2 separate regions of the Homo sapiens genome follow, and region 2 is linked to region 1. Evidence: fine-mapped expression QTL. A gene starts in region 1. The other region holds a variant in brackets. All regions are shown on one strand. Distances are between the middles of the regions.

Region 1 (10,990 bases):
GTTTTTTTTTCAAAGGTGGGTGAGGATTTAAGGAGGAAGAATAGATTAGATTAGAGCTATGCAGTGTCATTTTTAAAAAAGTATTCACATTAGCCAAAAAACATAGAAGAAGCAACAGAGGCAGATGTGGATGGTGTCACCCACGCCCTTCCCCAGCAAAGGGCCCAGTGCAAGGGCCTTTTTGGGTTACAGAGGCCACCATCCCTGAGGAGAAGGATGCCTGTGGCCATCTTGCCCTGGGCCCATTAGCACCTTCTCTAGTCAGGGCACTGCACTGAAGCTGAAGATAAAATGATGAATAAAATATAGGGACTAAAGTCAAGTGATGTGAAAAGAGAAGTAAGCAGGCCATTACAATGGAATCGGACTTGTGCTATGTTATTACAGAGTGGGACCAAAGTGTGCTGTGAGAGCACAGGTAATGGTGATCTGACTGGAAAAGGTGGCAGCCACGCTGTCCTGGACGATTCCCAGAACTGCCTTCTCATTATCATCCAATTCCCAGGCTCTGTTGCTCTAGGAAGAGGATGTACTCCTGTACAGGCCAGAAGATGTAAGCATCCTGACCTCCTGGCAGCTTGGCTTCTCATTGTAAATGCAGAAAACGGACTTCTGAGAATAATTGGATTTCCCATATGGCTTACTTAGAGGAAGAATACATTAGCCAAAGGACGTGAGTGTCCACTTCTCTGATGTGACAGATCTTATTGTCAAATTAATAAACTGTCTTTCTGGCTTTTAGAGTCTCTGAGAGTCTGGTACCTGTGTATCTGTTGCTGAAAGATACATTAATTTTTGATGTGCTAACAAGTCAGTATTCTGAGATTGCAAGACCAGCCTGAGCCCTGGAGGATGTACCGGGGTAATGTCATCCCTTGGGACATGGCTAGTAGATACTAGCCTCCTCCAGGGACCCCTTTCTGCTCTGTGTGCTTCTTTGATCCTCTGCATTTCTCAAGGGTGGACCCATGTCTGATGCTTCTTTGATATCTGAGTTATCTTCTCTCACCATGTGTGCTACAAAGCATTTTGGTTCTTAACAAATTTGTTTCTTGATTTCTTTCACTCGAATTCAACCTAATCAAAATAGCTAAAATAACATCTATTTGGGGGCAAGTCAGATGGAAACTGTCCATGGAGTATTTTTAAACTGAAACACGAATACTTAAAAAAAATTCATCTGCTGCCTTTGAAAGATCACAACCTTTTGAATAACCATGTTAACTTCATCATCTGCTTTGGCTGTGACGGCCAGTGTTCCTCAAATAAGCCAATCAACTGAGAACCTTTCTCCAACCTATACTTCTAATTAAAGAACAAGAAACCAAACACTGTGAACTCCTTTCCAAATGAAAACGATTTCTTTCATCTCCAGTGGTTTCACTGTCAATCACTTAGATAGGTTCTTTCATCTATAACAAAAGATGGCAAACTTTTTCTGTAAAGGTCCACATAGTAAATATTTCAGGCTCTGTGGGCCCACAGTCTCCATTGCAGCTACTCAACTCTGCCACTGCAGCGGGAAAGCAGCTGTAGACAATATGTAACCAAATGAGCATGGCTATGTTCCAATAAAACTTTGTTTATAGACACTGAAATTTGAATTTCATCTAAATTTCATGGGTCACAAAATACTGATCTTCTTTTGATTTATTTCCAACCATTCAGGAATGTGAAAACCATTCTTAGCCCACGAGACATACGGGCAAGCTGTCAGATCTGGCCCACAGGCCATAGCTTGTCAATGCCTGTCCCATCATGATGAATGCCAGCAATGAGTCGCTATACTACATGAATGTGTATGGTCCCTGTCCCTTCATAATACTCCTTTACCAACCCTGAGAACTAGGACTTATAAGTGGATCTGAAGTTCACAGTTGGCAAATTTAAAATCTTACGGGAAAAATATTTTCATTAAAATTAAACAATGGGCCGGGTGTGGTGGCTCACACCTGTATTCCCAGCACTTTGGGAGGCCAAGGCGAGCGGATCAGCTGAGGTCAGGAGTCCAAGACCAGCCTGGCCAACATGGTGAAACCCTGTCTCTATAAAAATACAAAAATTAGGCAGGCATGGTGGTGTGTGCCTGTAATCCCAGCTACTCGGGAGGCTGAGACACGAGAATTACTTGAAACCAGGAGGGGGAGGTTGCAGTGAGTCAAGATCACACCGTTGCACTCCAGCCTGGGTGACAGAGTGAGACTCCATCTCAAAAAACAAAAACAAAAACAAAAAAACTTAAACAATGGTCAGCACACTTAAAAAAAAAAAAGAAAGGACATTTTACCTATCTTAAGTCCCAAATAGTGGGAACTATGTAATTTGTTCCTAGTTGCCATCCCCTCAGAAAAAAATGGTAAGATCCCTGAGATAGTGGTGAGCTTGTTTTACTCTAACAATACATCTGCTGAGACTTTTTTCAATGTTGGTTTATCCATCCAAATGTTCAATGTCCTGTCTTTCTGGTTTTAAGATTAGTATTTGTAGACCCTCATCTCCTCAGTCCCACCATAGTCCAAGATGGTGGATGATTGATACATAAAAAGCTATAGATTTTGTTTCTTTAATCTAATCTACATATCTACAACACTTGCAACACCCTTCCCCACTTGCAAATATTGTCCTGTCTATGATAGCTTTCTAGGCATTCCTAACAAACACTTTAAGGCTCTATTTTCCTTGTGTTTTGTTTCACTTCAAATTTCATTGTATACTTCTTTACTACTGCAGACTTTCTCTTTTAACTCTCTTTTTATTTCCAGTCCCAGGGTTTCTCTTTTTTTCACCATCCACAACAGTTGTCACTTGAATGAGGCATATATTTGAACTGTGTTTCCCAGTTACGTCCTTTTCCCAGTTGAAAGGTCCCAGCATCATATTCCCAAGTGAACCCACATGGGTTCATTGTACTTTCTCTTTTGTGCAGGGTTGAAAATGTCCATAATAAAAAAGATTTTATAAAAATAGAGCATACATTCCTATACTCTAGATTTGGTCACAAGAGGAATTTGTGGTTGGGAAGAAATTAGCATATTCATATGCCACACCACTCCCTGGCATGCCCTCCCTATTCTGTGCCTGGTAAAATTGTTCTCAGCCTCTGAGTTCTAGGCAGGACACCTATGGAAGTATCTCGATAACTCTCTCATCTGCATTCCCAAAGCACTTTATACATCTCCATTAAAGCACTTACTATTGCATTGTGGTTAGCTGTTTATAGAGCCGTCCCACCACCAATCTCCCCTACCCTCTAAGCCTACAAGCAACTCTCATATTTTGTTGCATCCCCAGTGCCCAGCACAGTGCCTGGAAAAGAAGATCAAGATAGCATTTAAAAGAGGATCAAGATAGCATTTCACAGTGCCTGGAAAAGAGGATCAAGACAGCATTTCTCAGAAACATTGAGGGCAGTGTCTCCACTAAACAGGTGTTTCAGGGGGCTTCCCTAGCCAACTTCCATAAACACTCTCAACCTTTCTCCTTTCCTAAAAAAAATAAATAAATAAACAATCTAAGTAAAAACACAACTTCAAAACAAGTCCCCCCATGGCCTTCATACAATGAGATTGCTGCCCTAAACTGTTCCTCATTGGAATTAATTCTGGCATGAACACTGCAGAACATGCAAAGTTCTTTTAATACCACAAAACAAAAAGCCTACATGGCACTCACAGTTTTCAAACTATTTCACCTTTTTTTTCTCCTTCCATTTGTCCACTTATCCCTGATAGTCCTATCCTCATTTTTCAGACACTCAAGGAAGTAAAAGTGACATGTCCAATATCAGAACTGGTAACAGCTCTGTGCCTAAAACCCTTAACTTATTGATCTATCCACTCATCTGACTCTTCTGATGCTAGGCTCAGTATCTGTGAAGGGTTTTTTTTTTTTTCCTAGATTTTTTTCCCATTATGAATGGTGGCATTAAATGGGGGCACCATGCTCTAAAAAATCCATTTCAAGCAAAATCATTTAGGCAGATACACATTATGAAAAGAGAGAGTCGAATATGTCCCACTTGTGTTAGTATTGCTCTATGATTTTGCCATAAGTACTTCTTATTGACTAACGGGTTTCCAGTGAATTACCGACTGTTCAAAAAATGCCATGCCATGCATTTCTACACATAGAAATATGTTATTATCTAAAAATTTTGCTCATAAGGAAGCACTACTATTTATAGGTTAAGTGCAAGATCCTGAATCCCATATAATTCCTTTTTCCTGAACTATTAAATGTAGATACTTATCACATTAACAACCTCTATACTTTAAATACTCTTAGTTCTTCTACATAATCCTGTGTGATTTAACTATTACTTTAATTCTCTTACTATTTATTGCATGCAACTCTTTTAATATTAGTACATATCATTTTAGACATAAATAGGGCACTACCTGCCAAAAAATCTTGCTACTGAGTGGTAATTGAAAGTCAAGATTATTTCTCAGATATATTAAGCTTTTCAAATGAGCTACATTTAGCTTTTCTCAAATTACTTAATATTTTTCAACAAAGGCCTATAATAGAGTATGCAAAGCACGTCACACTTAAGATTTTCAAGTTTGATCTGGTTACGAATCTGTTAATTGAAAATTTTTCAATATGGCAGAGCACAAAATATTTCACACAAATGCAAATAGAGATGTCATGCAGATAGCTGCAAGACGTGCATCATTGCCCTTCTGCATCAAACTCCGAAATTCAGAGGCAGTTCACTCTGCAAGATTTCTTGCTCAGTTCTTAAAAGTTCAGATGCATCACCTTTTAATCAGGGTAATAAGCTATAATTGCTAACATACTGTGTAACGTTTAAACCTGCAATCTGGACAAACAGAAAATTATGCTGTCACAGCCTGGAAACAACTGCAATCCACTGTTAACACACACATCCTCCTTAGAGAGAGCTGTCGTCGGGAGTTACATGCTTTATGGTTTTAATTATTTTTAGCGTAAAGATCTTTTCCCGAGAAGCAGGTATTAAGACGAAAGCAGCCTCCCAAATGACCTTCTCTAACACAGACCTTGAGCGAGCGACTGCGGGGGCAGAGAGCTGTGAATTTCAGCAAGGGATTCGACAGCTCCACCGGGTCCCTCACACTTTGCTTTCAAGAACAAAAAAAGAATGTTACTCTGCACCTGCCGGTGCCCCCACCCCTCTTTAAAACTTCATACCCCGCAAGGTCTGAATAGCCGGAAAGGGTATGCATCGATTCTTCTGTCCCGTGATGCCAAGAGAAAATAAACCCCCACCCAGGAGCGGAGCCTGGAGTCGCGGCAGGGCAGGGGGTTGGAGAGGTGGGTGCTCTCTCCCCTTACTGCGCTGCATTTTCTCCACCACGTGTAATAATCTCATGCCGCTGGCACCCCACGAGAGGCGGGGATCCTTGTCCTCCTGTCTCCCGGACGAGGACCTCAACCCCTTCCCCCGCTCGGGGACCCCGGCCACCCGCAGCCCGGCCGCGCTGCGCCCAGGTGCGGAGCTGCGGCGGTCTCAGGGCCCGGGCAGCACCGCAGAGCTCGGCCCCCGGCTGCGGCCCCCGGCGAGCTACCTTTTATCCAGGCAGGCGATCCACTCGGCAGAGGAGGAAGAATGGGCAGCGTGCGCAGCGACCATGTTGAGCGGCGGCGCGCGGTGTCCCTGGCTGCGGCGACCTCCCGCGCTCGCTCTGCCTGCGCCTCCGCCCCCGCCTCGTCCGCCGCGCGGACCCCGCTCCTCCCGGACGCCTGGCGACCAGCGCGGCTGCGACAGGCCCGCCCTCCCCGCGGGCTCCCGCGGCCTGGGGCGGTGGGGAGAGGGAGGGGACCCGGGGGGCGGGACGCGGGTGCGGGGAGGGCCGAGTCGCCCGCCCGCCCGCCGCTGCACTGCGGCGCCCGTGGGTGGGGATTCCGCCCCGGGGTGGGGACCCCGCGGTCCCGCTGCTGGGGGACACTGGGGGTGGCGACCCCGGTGGCCGGCCACCTGCGACAGGTGTCCGCTGCGTCCCTCGGAGACTGGGGCCCCACCCTCACCCCGGGGCCTCTGAGGCGGGGCGGGAGGGCAGGCGCCAAGGCAGAGTGGGGAGAGGGCTGCCAGTGTCTATATATTTTTCATACAGCAAATGCTACTAAAATGGCTGCTGCCTCTCTGTTTCCTTAGAAACCCATGAGTCTTCCTCAGCAGCTGTCGAAACTTGCCGGCGGTTGCTTGCTCACCTTTGCTGTCTCCCCTTCAGAAAAGGCTGGAGGGGAGGGCGAGGAAGGCTTGGCGTGGGGACGCCCGTCGAGTCTCTCAGTGAGGAATGAGAGGCCAGCTTCTCCTGCGGGGTGAGGAAGGGCTGGGCGCAATGGGGGGCAGTGCGGGCAGGGCTGAGGGGCAGGGAGGGAGGAGGCCGGTGGGCCCGATGTGGTCTGAGGGGGTGACAGGCTGAAGTCACTGGCCTTGAACCCTGGGCCTGCCTGGGCTTCCATCACCTGCATGGTGAAGAAAACACAGTTGAGAATGGGGAGTAGCCGGGCCACAGCAGAACCGAGACCCCGGACGCGCAGGTGAACTTGTATGGCTGGCCCCCTTGCTGTTCTTCCTCTGGCTGGAGTGTTGAATGGGTGGTGATAACGGCCTGTCTCTTGTAGATGTTCACACAAATGTCATGTCTACAAGTTATTCAGTTACACTCTGCCAAGAACCAAATTACACGCCAATGGTTGTTTAGGAATTTGCGGACAAGTTAAATGTTTTGGACTATTACCAAGCACTGTTTTGATATTTATGGCACTACATTTGGGGCCAGACAATGGGGGAAAGGGACATAGCATTGCTTTCTTCTACTGTTCCCTGCCTCCTCCCCCCACCAAACCTCCTATCCAACCCTGCTCAGGGGAGAGTCAGGGGGACTGGAGAGAAGGAAAGAGCAAGTGCTTTCTGGGATGCTTTGATCCTAATAAAACAATTATTACCATGATATAAAAGCCTCCAAATATGTGCCATTTCCCTCTGCTGGATAGCCAGGATCTAGTTTCAGACCTGCCACAGTGTTCCCACAGCAACTCCTCCCTCCCTGCTCAGGGCTTTTCCCCCAGTTAACCTTCATTCTGTTAATTTCTATCATGTTTATGCTAATATTTAAAATAATATACTATAGAAAGATTAACCAAAGGTATTTATGTTGTGGCTTTTTTACTATACAGGTATGAAGGAGGAACTGTATCTCCTATATATATTAAGTTTCATTTATAAAGACATCAGAGAGCACCTGAGAATGTTTCAAGGTCACCAAAAGCTTTCTGAAAATGCCTTTCTGCAAAGAAGGTTTCCAGGTAAGGAGCTAGAGGAGAAAGGAGCTGCACATCACCTGTCATCACACAGAGGCTCAGAGTTGCCATAGCTTTGGTTATGATACTAATAATAGTCGCCATTTATTGAACATCCACTGAGTGTTAGACCCTGTGCAGTACTCCTTACATGTGTGATCCCATTTAATCTTCAGAACACTCTATGAGGCAGAGCCAGAAAGACACTACTCCACAAACAGCAATAAATATCCTTGAAAATGTAGTGAAATATTGAAAATGATATGTATCAGTACTTTCAGGGAGAGTGTTAATTGGATTGGAAGGAAGACACTGATGAGCTGCTGGGAGTGAGAGTGAGACCCTCGAGGAGTCCACAGTGCATTTTAAGGAGTGTAGCTCTGATGAACTGCAAGGCCTTTGTTTTGCTGTGTGGGGGCCCTGCCTCTTCTCTAAAGAGAAGTTGAAGACTTATTTAAAGAACATCCTTTCGAAGGAGAACCAACAATCACTAGCTTGTCCAGAGCATGCTCATGTCTTCATCCAGCCCTGGAGGTAGGTACAAGTAACTCCAAGATACTCACTAAGACACTGAACTCAGGAAGGGTCCATAACCCAGCTACAGGAGATGGGGCCCCGGAGTGGAATTTGGGTCTGTCTGATTCCAAACCCTTCCACATCAGTGATGGTGTCCCTGTTTCTGCCAATAGAATGGGAGTATAGGGCATGTCTACAATGACTGTCCAGAGGGTAAGAACAAAATAGTTATAAATCAGTTTTTTAATGTAAAAATAGAGAAATGTGTGAGGAATTAAAAAACAGAGATCCTTAAAACATCAGGAATAGCTTTACTGTCCTATAGATTATCTTGTGATCTGAAAGGGATTTGATTGCTGGTCAAGAACTACAGGAGTAAAGGAAACTCTGTTGATAATTAGTTATTATAGTATTAAGAGGAAGAAAACAGGCTTTTGCTTGGATTGGATGGGAAAGGCAAAGAACCAAAGAATATTTATTCATTTCCCTCTCTTTAAAAGAACACAATATATGTCAGTCCCAAAAGAGCATATGTTGTATGATCCTATTTATGTGAAACTTCCAGAAAAAGCGAATCTATAGAGATGGAAAATAGATTAGGGATTGCCTAAGGCTGGGAGGTGGGAATAAGGGATGACTGCAGATGGGCCTGAGAAATCTTCTAGAAATGATCTAAAATTGAACTGTGGTGATGGATACACAACTCTATAAATTTAATAACAATCATCAAATGGTATAGTTAAAATGAGTGAATTTTACAGTATGCAAATTATCTCAATAAAAATGTTAAGTAAATAAAATATTAATAAACCTATATGGAGAGGAAAAATAATATGATTGATCTTTTGGGGGGAAACAGAGAAAAATATAGGAGAAAAAGTAAAAATTACCCATAATTCCATAACATAGAGGTAATACTGTTAATATTTTAGTGCATTTAATTCTAAACTTTTCTATTATGAAAAGATACAATCAAGGCCAAGCACAGTGGCTCACATCTGTAGTCCCAACAATTTCGGAGGACAAGGCAGGAGGATTGCTTGAGGCCAGGAGTTCAAGACCAGCCAGGGCAACATAGTGAGACCCCCCCCATCTCTACAAAAATTAAAAAAAAATTAAAAATTAGAAGTGATATGATCATACATGTACCCACAAACACATACATATAACTAGCTATGTGTATGTATATGTGTGCATATATGTATGTGTATAGATACATGTATTCAAACAGACTTGAAAGCATTAATAGTTTATAGGCTACTTTTTCTATTGGAATGGAAAAATGCTTTACTTTCCTTAAAAAATCCTTAAACATTTTTTCCTGGCCACCAAATATTCTAGTGTACAGTTATAATTTACTTACACTATCTTTTGAGACTTGTTTTTTCACTTGGAAAAGGTATTATCTGTTTAATCTCCTTCCTATAGTTTAGTGAATTCTTTCTCTACTAGAGAACTAAGATCTCTACTGAAGATCTCCATGAGACAAGGATGAGACAAGACCAATATCTGTTAATGCTATGTAGATCCTCGAATGAGTTGCTAAAATGTCTGATTTCCATTTTGTTCATCTGAGCAGAGGTTCAAAGTTAGGAATTTGAAGGCAGGCAGCCAAGTTCAAATTGCAGCCATATCTTCTACTAAATGTTTGGCCTTAAATTAACTACTTAGCCTAAGACTCCGTTTCATCATCTGTAGAGTGGAGAAATTAATAGTATTATACATGAATTTGGTATTTGTAAGATATTTAGCATAAGTGCCAAGCACATAGTGAGTGTTCAATAACTCTTAGCTATTATTCTCCATATAGTGCAAATAATACTAGGTGCTCTCTGCATTTCACAGGGACCTGGTGGTGATAAGCTGTCGAGATCACTTATGCTAAAGGGCTTCGACATCTATAAATTGCAAGTTTTGGCTATAAAGGATATGAGGGATGGGTCTCCTGAGAAACCCATAGAAATTCTCCAGGAAATTCTATCATAGATTGGGCATTCACTCATATCCGTATATGGGGAAAAATCTGATTCACCATGTTTTAGGTACCTCATTGGAAGGTAGGTTATAAAAACACATCTATCACTCCTGCTGGTGATATAACCAATTCAATGAAGACGCAGTATTCCTTCGGTGAAATCATAAAAGCAATTTTAATGTTTTATCTCACTGTCCTTTTAAACTTGCTCAGTGAAGGCAATTCTACCCCTGCCACTGGATATAGCTTGTTTGGTCACTTATAGGTAATAGAAAGTACCAGATTCTTTCTATTAGAATGCCCAAACCAATATATCACTACATATTTCAATCTTCATTTCAAAGAAAAGAACTCTGCCCTCCTCCCCAACCTACAGCTGGTCACAGGCAGGTCTCAGCCTTTAGGAGAGAAGACGTGGTCAGCTTCTCCTTTCCTTCCTCATCCCAGACCACCATGAAAGCTGCTGGTTTTGACCCTTCCAGAATCAGAGTAGGGAAGGGAAGAGAGAAAAGAAGGGGCAAGAAAGTTCTTACTTTACTGGGACAGTTGTAAGATGGCATTGTCTTTTCCAAACCTGGCTAATGTCAAACCTGCTCTTTATCTTGTGGGTGCCTTCATTTTTTCTTAGGTGCCCCTGCTGCTGGGCCCCCCACATAAGCAAGTGTCACTGGATTTCCTGAGTCCCCCTCCAAATTTCCTCCCTCCGTAGGACTCCCAATTTATCTTCCACCCACACCCCAGCTGTCTTCTTGAGCAGGATTTAAAGGGGCTCCAGGATCGTTCTCTTCTGTGTGTCCCACATTTGGTCCATAGGGACACTCAACACCTATTTTGCTCTAATAAACTCAGAGTGCAGACCAATCCTACCAACCGTGCAGCCTCTTCACTCGCCAAAGAGGCTCACCAATCCCTCTCTCCTGATCTGTAGGTTTCCAGGGCTGGAGTCAGACAACAATCCCCTATGCTCCCAACTTACAGGTTCTCTGAGTGGCCCACATGGAGAGGAAAAAATAGTATGAGAAATATTACTTTTCAAGACTTTCCATGACTAAAACAAGAAAATACTCCTGTTTTAGTCATGGTTCTCCAGAGAAATAGAACCAATGGATTATATATCTGTAACTATGTCTATATCTGTATCTATAAAAGGAGACTTATTATGAGGAATTGGCTCCCACAATTATGGAAGCTGAGAAGTCCTACCATATG
Region 2 (10,990 bases), 150 kb after region 1:
ATGAGATCATTCTAATGACAAGTACTTGAGAAAAAAGTCAACACTAAAAAGTAATTCAGTGTTGACCAAACACTACTAAAACCAGTAATTTATTCCCCACATTAGAAATAATGTGGTTAACCATATTTCAAAATGTGGTTTTACACAGGAAAACTACTGCTATATCACGATCAAACTTTGTAACAAGAACTCCAAATCTCTGTCTCGTGCCCATTTCAGTTGGAAAAAAAAAAAAGTATTCTGAAGGCTGTTTAAATTTAGGGGAAAGTGTGCATTTCTAAGAGCTTCTTTCTTCCTTGTGGAGTACCCTACATGACGGCTTAACTTACTTATTTGGCAGCTACAGCATGTGGAAGGCAATTCACAGAAACACACTTCATTATTTCTTGATAACATACCAGAGGCACTGCGCGGGAGGTCTCAACACGAGGTCTTGGTGCAGTTGAATACATGTAGTTGAAAAGTCTGTCAATTTTCCTCAAAGGAACGCCACCTCCTCGGTCACTCATCTAAGGTAAGAAAAGGATCGTGCTCTATGCCCAAATCCTCAAAACAGCAAAATATCAACACATACTCATAGCATCACAGTTTAACTGCTGGTGGGAGAGCGCTTTTTTTTTTTTTTTTTGAGACAGAGTCTCGCTTTGTCGCCCAGGCTGGAGTGCAGTGGTGCGACCTCAGCTCACTGCAACCTCTGCTTCCCGGGTTCATGCCATTCTCCTGCCTCAGCCTCCCGAGTAACTGGGACTACAGGCGCCTGCCACCATGCCCGGCTAATTTTTTTTAGTAGAGGCAGGGTTTCACCATGTTAGCCAGAATGGTCTCGTTCTCCTGACCTCATGATCTGCCTGTCTTGGCCTCCCAAAGTGCTGGGATTATAGGCATGAGCCACCGCACCCAGCCTGAGTGCTGCTTTTGAAAATGAATACAACACAATCCAAGTTGCCAATATAAGCATTTCCCTCGCTGTTGAACCCAACCCAACTCCTCTAATATGTGAAACTCTAATACATAAACTCCATCATAATACTGCTGTGGCTTTGTATATTTCCGGGAGTCTCATTAACAGTGCATTATAGCACAGAACTGGGCACAAGTTAACCCTATCTTGTATGTAACTATAAATCTGTTACTCCTTTCTGGTGGGCAGCATGGTGACTAGAAGCAAATTAAACATGCACACCTGTAATCCCAGCACTTTGGAAGGCAGAGATGGGTGAATCACTTGAGGTCAGGAGTTCAAGACCAGTTTGGCCCACACAGCGAAACCCCATCTCTACTAAAAATATAACAATTAGCCAGGTGTGGTGGCACATGCCTGTAGTCCCAGCTACTTGGGAGGCTGAGGCAGAACAATTGCTTGAACCCAGGAGATGGAGGTCACAGTGAGCCAAGATCGTACCACTGCACTCCAGCGTGGGTGACAGAGCAAGACTCCTTCTCAAAAAAAAAAAAAAAAAAAAAAAAAAATTAAAAATGCATGTACTAGGCTGGGCATGGTGATTCACGCTTGTGATCTCAACACTTTGGGTGACTGAGACAAGAGAATCACTTGAAGCCAGGAGTTTGAGATCAGCCTGCACAACAGAGTAAGACCCCATCGCTACAAAAAATTTTCTAAAATTAGCTGGGCATGGTGGCATACAACTGTGATCCCAGCTACTTGGGAGGCTGAGGAAGGAGTATCACTTGAGCCCAGGAGGTGGAGGCTATAGTGAGGTATGATGGCACCACTGTACTCCAGCCTGAGTGACAGAGGGAGCCACTGTCTCTAAATTAAGAAAACAAAAACAAACAAAAAAAGAAAAGCATATATTGGGTGGGTCTGGTGGCTCACACATATAATCCCAACACTTTGGGAGGCCATAACAGGGGGATCACTTGGGCCCAGCAGTTCCAGACCAGCCTGGGCAGTATAGTGAGACTCCGTTTGTACAAAAAAAAAAAAAAAAAAAACTTTAAAATTACCCAGATGTGGTAGTGCATGCCTGTAATCCCCAACTACTTGGGAGGCTGAGGCAGGAGGATCACTTCAGCCCAGGAGTTCGAGGCTGTAGTGAGCTATGATCTCACCACTGTACTCCAACCTGGGTGACAGAATAAAACCCTGCCTCTATTTAAAAAAAAAAAAAAAAAAAAAAGCATGTACCTTTCACACAACAATGTCACTTCCAGAAATTTATCCTGAGAAAATAAGCAGAAAAGCATGCAAAGTATATATGAGAACATCCATCACAGCTCTATGCAGAATACCTAAAAGTAAACAACCTAAATAGGGGATTAGTTAAGTAAAAGAAAGTACATTCTAAAATAGAATATTGTTAACCATTAATTAGATATTATATAGAACTCCATATACTGGCATAAGAGATAGTTAAGCAGCAAAAAAAACCAACCAACAAACAAAAAAAAAACAGTTACAAAGAAGCATTTATAATACTCTGCAAAAATTCTATTATAAAAAGGTCTGAAATGATATCTAATTTTATTGTCTGTAGAATGAGTAATTTTCTCTTCTTGTTTGGGGTTTTCAGTTTCTGAATTTTCTTCACAATTACTTTAACAGGAAAAAAACAGTATAATTTTCATTTTCAGGGAGAAAAAGACAGAACCACTACTTTGTATTTCCATCTACCAGCAATTTTACAGCCTAGAACCCCAGAAAACTTTCTGATATGTTCGTAAGGCATGTAGGTCTTTACATTTTCATATCATTTTTCAACTCAAACAGTATGGCAAATCAAATTTAGTAATTTATTTACATACAATTTTTCTTTTCCTTCAAAGTTAACATGGACTTATTTTCCTAGCTACTATCCAGCTTATATTCTAATCTACTACAGCCATTTTCCTTTGTCACAGAATCTGAATTGATTTTACTGCCTATAACAATATAGTTGTCATACACAAACAAATCTGCTTTTAATTTATGTATATATAGATTAAAATAGTACTGAATAATATGTATTAAAAGTCAATAGGCTGAATGGCTTATAGTTGAGTTTTTATATATTTAAAAATTGTTACAGTATATATATATTACCTTTATAATGGTAATTATGTAGATATTTTGATTTTTATAACTAAAAAAATCTGCCTTGAAATACCATTGAAAGATGTGCCTCGAATACATCTAAAATTAAGTAATTACACTATCAATAATAAAGTATACAAGGACTTTATTAGGAACTTGTGGCTGGGTGTGGTGGCTTACACCTATAAACCCAGCACTTTGGGAGGCAAGGCCGGCGAATCACTTGAGGTCAGCAGTTCGAGACCAGCCTGGCCAACATGGCAAAACCCTGTCTCTACTAAAAATACAAAAATTAGTCAGGCGTCATGGTGCACGCCTGTAATCTCAGCTACTCGGGAGGCTGAGGCACAAGAATCTCTTGAATCCAGGAGGAGGTTGCAGTGAGCCAAGGTTGTACCACTGCACTCTAGCCTGGGTGACAGAGCGAGACTCTGCTCAGTAAAAAAAAAAAAAAAAAAAAAAAAAAAAAAACCAGAAAACTTTTATGCAGCATTATGCTTGAAATTGCTCTTGGCCCTGTAAAGTAATTTATTTTAGTAAGATGAATAAAGAGCTCTGGGTATTTTGAGAAATCCATCAATTTGTTAATTACTCATCCTTTAATTCAATGCTCTGCTGCACATTTGCTAGTTAACATGAATAGGAAGTATGTGTATTCTATAAATACATGAAGGGAGTAAAGAACATATTAGAATAGATACTAAGATAAAAAGGTAGACTTGAGTAAATATTTCCTGGTTTTCCTTAACCTTTTGGCCACGGAGACTGTAACAACAACCTAGCAAGTACAAAATAAGAAGTCATTTCCAGCCTCAGGCTGCATGGGAAAATAAGAGGGGATAAGCAGACAGGACAGAGAGGATGTGAGAAGCATCATGTTGCTAGAGGTAAAGGGCAAACTAAGCCACAGGAATAGAGTTAGAAACTACAGTCAAAGTAGTACTTTGCTTTGCAGCCAACAATACAATAAACTGGAGCCAGTGGATTTTAAAGTAGGCAAAAGAGTTTCCAAAAGAGCAGTAATAGATTATTGGAGGATCCAAGTTCTTCAGGAAAAGGGAGGGAGGGAATAATGGAGAGACAGATATTTAGTCTGTATATATTCAAGGCAAGAAGAATGGTACCTTTGATGACAAATGTATTGAAAGAGAGATGTGAAAACTAACACGAAACCTTATTAAGATAATGAGATAAGTAATGTCAACAGGAAGGCCAAGGAAGAGAAGTTTGCCAATTATTTTTAAAGTTTTCTCTTCAGTGCACAAAAGCACCACTTGTCAATGTCATCTAACCAAGAGCTGCCATCCCTAACTTCCTATTCCCAGTAACACTAGGCTCCCTAGGTTAATTCATGTGAACTCTAGGCCCAGATGAAATGAACCACTACTGACTAGATGACAGCTCTAAAGCCAGGACATTCCCTGTATTCACCCAGAGTTCCTAAAGTTTCTTAGCCAACAGCGTTTTCACTGTTAAGTCTGTAAAATCATCAACAGTAAATGAACCAAGACATTTAAGTTTTAATTTAAATGACATGTAGGCCAGGCGCTGTGGCTCATACCTGTAATCCCAGCACTTTGGGAGTCTGAGGTGGTCAGATCACTTGAGGTCAGGAGTTCCAAGACCAGCCTGGCCAACATGGTGAAACTCTGTCTCTACTAAAAATACAAAAATTAGTCAGGTATGGTGGTGCGTGCCTGTAATCCCCACTACTCGGGAGGCTGAGACAGGAGAATTGCTTGAACCCGGGAAAGAGAGGTCATGGTGAGCTGAGATTCTGCCACTGCATTCCAGCCTGGGTAACAGAATAACACTCCATCTATAAAAAAACACACACACACAAAAAAAAGACATGTGGCTATAACACATAGGTTATTTATAGATTATATACTAAACACAGAATTGAAAGAGCAGCTAGGGCTGTAAGACAGAAACAACAACTTTTGTATAGGATTTTTAGCAAGAGGATAAAAGGTAAAAAATGTCAATAATTTGAACAAGCTAAAAAAAATGGGGAAGAAACAAAACCAAGCCTTGATTCTAAAAGTCTAGGGTAAGTAATGGGGATCAAA[G/C]CTCGACTGAAGAAAAAGCAAGAATTCAACATGTAAAGAGAGGCTGCAAGAGGAGATGCCTTCATGTGACCTTGGATGTGAGGAGCAGAAACAACAGGTGAAGGCAGAGCCTAATACAGACAGGACTTCTAGAACAGTCTTTTTGAGACCTTTACAAGCCTTTCTATTTTATTTTAAACAGCTTTATTCAAATATAATTAACATAGCAGGCTTCTAGAACACTCTTTTTTGAGACCTTTACAAGCCTATTTTATTTTAAACAGCTTTATTCAGATATAATTTACATAGCAGGCTGGACGCAGTGGCTCATGCCTGTAATCCCAGCACTTTGGGAGGCGGAGGCAGACGGATCACTTGAGGTCAGCAGTTCGAGACCAGCCTGGCCAACAAGGTGAAACCCCATCTCTACTAAAAATACAAGAATTAGCCAGGTGTGGTAGCAGGCGCCTGTAGTCCCAGCTACTAGGGACTGAGGCAGGAGAATCGCTTGAACCTGGGAGGCGGAGCTTGCAGCAAGCTGAGATCATGCCACCGCACTCCAGCCTGGGCAACAGAGGGAGACTCCATCTCAAAAAAGATAAAAATAATTTATATACCATATAATTAATGCACTTAAAGTATATAATTGAATGGTTTTTAATATATTCATCGATATGTGCAACCATTACCACTGTCAATTTTAGAATTTTTCATCACCTCCAAAAGAAACCCTAGCTCCTTTAGTGGTCATATCCCTAGGCAACCACTAATCTACTTTCTGTCCCTATATATTTGCCTATTCTGGACATTTCATGTAAATAATATCATATAATATGTGGCCTTTTGTGATTGGCTTCTTTCACTTAGCATAATGTCTTCAATGTTACAACAACCAGTTTGTAGCATTTATCAGTATTTCATTCCTTTTGTGGCCAAATAATATTCCACTGTATGGACATACCACATTTTGTTTATCCATTCATTAGCTGATAGATATTTGGGTTGTTTCTACCTGTACACTATTGTGAATAGTGCCACTATGAGTATTTGTGTGTAAGGTTTTGCCTAAATATTCTCAATCCTTTGAGGTATAGACATAGGAGTAGGATTGCTGGGTCATTATGAATTTTTCTTTACATCATAAAGACAGATTCCTGAGGTTAAGCCCATCCACCAGCACAGAAGTAATCTCTTCTGAGAGTCTAAGAACTCAGTAAACCTTGATCTATGCAATGACGGATAATAGCAATAGAAAGCAGCTGCAGACCAAAATGCTAAATAAAGCACTTCTAATAGAAGCAGAAAAAGGTACAAGAAAGAACATGCTGCAGCACAACTTAAGCCCCAAACCAGAAGACCAATGGGTCTTTTCTTGACTGTAAACCTTAACGGGAAAGTAGCTGACACACAACTAACCAAAAAATAGACACATTAGCATCTGAGCTAAAAAAAAAAAAAAAAAAGTGATACATTCATATTGTTTTTACAGCAAACAGATGGCATCGCCATTTATTGACTTTTTTGTGCCTATCTCTTTAAAATGAACAAACGAGAGAGAAACGGACAAAAGGAAACTCAGGAAACGGACAATGCAGGGTACAGAGGCAAATTAATTAAAAAAAAATAATATCCTTAGAGCAATAAAATAAAACTAGAGCAGAATTCTAAAAAGGGATTAATTTTAAAAATAAGGATTCTTGGAAATTTGTAAGATAATGGAAATAAAAGTTCAATAGAAGGGCTGGGAATCTGAAGTCAAGGAAATCTCACAGAATAGAATAAAAAGTTGAAGCGATAAAAAACAGGGAGTGATGTCATGAAGCCCAACATCCTCTTAATATGACTATCAGAAAGAGACTAAACACACAGTGAAAAGGAAAATATCAAGAAAATAATGGGAAGTTCAAAGACCACAGCCCAGTAAGTAAGAAAAGGCCCACACCAAGTCACATCACTGAAACTTCAGAGCACAGCTTAAAAAAAAGAAAAAAAAAAAAGTTAAAAACTCTAGTTAAACAAAAGTAGACACCTAAAACTGGTCACATAAGAAGGAAGAGGAATTGTAATAAACGTTGTCTTCTCAAAAAGAACAGCAGGAGTGACATCAGCAAAAATAGAAGAGAAAGAACCTGCAAAAGTCTCTCCTCTATCAAAGCACCAAAAAAAAAAAAAAAAAGAAAGAGCGGGGGAGGGGGGTGCAAAAATCATTTAGAATCTACTTTGACAGAATTCTGGAAATTAACTAAAGGCATGCAGCAATCTGGGGAACATTTATTCAAGTAAAACAACTGAATCCGTATAAGAACAGTAAGCATTTTAACTTGCTCCCATCTGCTCCCCCTCCCTCCAATCAATATGCAATCAGAGTGAAACCAGCAGCCTGGTAGCTGCTGGGAAGACTGTATTTATTTGACCTGACTCTGAGCTCCCCAGTACAAAAGTCTTGCACCCCACCCCCATCCCTGGAAACATCTGTCAAAAACAATTAGAAGTAACTGATTAATTTGAGGGCTGCAGAAGAAACTGGACAACAGCTAGGGCAAACAATAAGGCTAACCAAAAAGCTTAACAGGAAGGTCTAGGGAATGAGATAGCCATAGGGGCTTTGAAAACCTCAGCTATCTCCTGGGAATCTGGAAGGCCATACTCATGCCCAGGGTCATGCTCAGGAAAGACACTGAGAAGGCCCTAAGCTCTCACCTCTAATTGCTCTATGCGAGCAGGACCTAAAGGTTAAGGCACAGTTGTTAACTGCCTGGCTGAGTGTTGAAGATATTCTCCTGAACACTTCTATACACACACAGAGTCCCTTGGCAAAGACTGGGAAACTTACTGATTCCAGGTATTTGAGGAAATCTCAGTCCAGTCATTAGCTGACCACTAAGCTAAATGAGCAGAGACTTCAGAAGCCACACACAACAAAGAATTCAAACTTAAAAGAATTAACTCCAAAAAAAAAAAAAATTACAAAACAACAACAAAGACAGCCTTGGGGAGACAGCAGTATCTGATCTGCAGAGCTGTCAAAATATATTATTTTAAATGTCCAGTTTTCTATAAAAATAACAAGATATGAAAAAAACAAAAAAGTATTGCCCATACACAGGCAAGGAAAAATCAGTCAATAAACTATACCTGAGTCAGTAAACTCACACTCCGTAAACAAACACTAAAGAACTAAAGTATAAGGATGTCTCAAAATAGAAAATTTTAAACGATACAACAATAAAATATAGGGCAATAAAATGATATGCATCAACATTTAGCAAAGGTGAAAAAAACAGGATAGATATTATATAAGAGAACTAAGTTGAAATTCTGGAATTGAGAAGTACAATAAATGAAATGAAAAATAAACGAAATGAAAATTTCACTAGAGGGGTTCAACAGCATATTTGAGCATGTGAAAGAAAAGAATCAGTGAGAGTGAAGACAGGTCAATTGAAATTATCCAGTCTGAGAAACAGAGAAATGACTCATCACATATGTGCAATATTCAATAAGATTGTAACAGCTGATTTCTCATCCAAACCATGGAGGCTGGAAGGCAGTGAGATAACATATTCCAAAGTGCTGAAAGAAAAAGACTATCAACAAGAATTCTATAACCAGCAAAACTATCCTTCAAAAATGAAGGAGAAATTAAGACATTTCCAGATAAGCAAAAACTGAGAGAGATGATCACTGACAGACATGGGCTATCAAGAAATACCAAAGGGAATCCTTCAGGCTGAAACAAAAGGATACTAGACAAAACATTGAATCCATGTTTAGAAATAAACAGTGCCAGTAAAAGTTATTACAAAAGTAAATCTAAAGGAAAATATGAGTATATTTTTTGTTTGTAACTCTTTTTGTGTCCTATCTGATTTAAAAGACAATTGAATAGAACAATAATTATAAATCTCTGTAGACAGGCACACAATGTACAAAAATGTATGTTATATGACAATAACAGCACAAAGGATGGGTGGGGAGGGGAAAAGGCCTATTTAGGAGAAAAGTCAGTGTATACTATTGAAAGCAAATTGGTATTAATCTGAACTAGATTATAAATTAAGGTGTTAATTGTAATCCCCAGGATAATTACTTAAAAAACTCAAAGAAATATAGTAACAAAAACAAGAACGAAATTAAAATGATATAATACAAAATATTTTAACAAAAGACAGTGATAATGGAGAAATAATAAAAAATGATATGACATATATTGAAGACAAAACGGCAAACATAAACCAAAATTACTGTTAATTACATTAATAGTAATTATATTAAATTTAATTGATCTGAACATTCCAATTAAAAGGTGGACATTGGCAGAATGGTTTTAAATTCTAACTGTATGCTATAAAGAGACACATTTTAGACTGAAAGGCACAAAGAGGTTTAAACTAAAAGTCTGGAAAGTTACACTATGAAAACAGAAACAAAAAGAGTTGGGATGGTTACACTAACTTCAAACAAAATATACTTTTAAACAAAAACTGTTATAAGAGACAAAATAGTACATTTTTTAATGATATAAGGTTAATACACAAAAAAGAGATAATAATTAAAAACATATATGTACTCAACAGAGCTCCAAAATACATGAAGCAAAACTGATGGAACTGAAGGGCGAAATAGACAATTCAACAATAATTGGAGATGACTTCAATACTCCACTTTCAACAATGGATATAACAATTACAAGATCAACAAGGAAAGACAAGCTTGTACAACACTGCAAACCTACTAAACCTAATAGCTATCTGTAGAACATTCAACAGCATCAGAATGCACACTTTTCTCAAGTACACATGGAACATTCTCCAAGACAGACCCTATGTTAGGCTGTAAAACAAATCTCAATAGATGTATACTTGAAATCATACAAAGTATGTTTCCAATCACAACAGAATGAAATTTAAATGATTAAGAGAACACATGGGAAATTCACAAGTATGTGGCAATTAAACAACACAATCCTATTAACCAATGGGAAAAATCCAAAAGGAAACTAGAAAATACTTTGAGATGAATGAAAATGAAAACAAAACATTAAAAACTTGTAAGATAGACAAAGCAGTGCTTAAAGTAAAATTATAGTTGTAAAATGTCTCAAATGAATAACCAAAACTTCCACCTTAAGAAACTAGAAAAACAGGAGCAAAATAACACCACAGCAAGCAGAAGGAAGGAAATTATAATAAAGCCTAGAGTGTAATTAATGAAATACAGAATAGAAAAATGGAGAAAATCAATGAAATAAAAAATTGGTTCTTTAGAAAGATTAACAAAATTGATAAGTATTTAGCTATATTGACCAAGAAAAAAAAAGAAGACTCAAATTTATAAAACCAGGAATGAAAGTGGGGACATCACTACCAATCTTACAAAAATAAAAAGAATTATTAGGGAATACTATGAACAATTGTGTGTAATAATTAGATAACCTAAATGAAATGGACAAATTCCTATAAAAACACAAACTATAGGCTGGGCGTGGTGGCTCATGCCTGTAATCCCAGAACTTTGGGAGGCTGAGGCAGGTGGATCACGAGGTCAGGAGATCGAAACCATCCTGGCTAACACGGTGAAACCCCATCTCTACTAAAAATACAAAAATTAGCCAGGCATGGTGGCGGGTGCCTGCAGTCCTAGCTACTCGGGAGGCTGAGGCAGGAGAATGGCGTGAACTCGGGAGGCGGAGCTTGTAGTGAGCCAAGATCCTGCCACTGCACTCCAGCCTGGGCGACAGAGCAAGACTCTGTCTCAAAAAACAAACAAAAAAACACACACAAACTATAGACACAGCTCAGGAGCTCAGGAAGAAATGGACAATCTAAATAGATATCAAATGTATTGTTTATATTTATTTATTTAATTATTATTATTTGAGACAAAGAGTCTTGATCTGTCACCC

Evidence for each region. PIP is the estimated chance that this variant, and not a neighbour inherited with it, causes the effect.
Region 2: its variant is fine-mapped to the expression of RAPGEF4-AS1 in prefrontal cortex (GTEx, PIP 0.98).

The regions. Positions count from the first base shown.
Region 1 is chr2:172,730,611-172,741,600 of GRCh38, reverse strand. RAPGEF4-AS1 (RAPGEF4 antisense RNA 1) reads left to right here and starts at 5,395. Exons shown (of 4, transcript NR_026995.1): 1 at 5,395-5,475; 2 at 6,140-6,306; 3 at 7,168-7,296. It overlaps RAPGEF4 (Rap guanine nucleotide exchange factor 4), which reads right to left and starts at 5,756. Exons shown (of 31, transcript NM_007023.4): 1 at 5,553-5,756. The coding sequence starts at 5,617.
Region 2 is chr2:172,575,797-172,586,786 of GRCh38, reverse strand. It overlaps PDK1 (pyruvate dehydrogenase kinase 1), which reads right to left. Exons shown (of 11, transcript NM_002610.5): 9 at 399-509. Among named protein-coding and RNA genes, the nearest start is that of PDK1-AS1, 25 kb to the right of the region's middle. The variant G/C (reference allele first, on the strand shown) is at 5,107.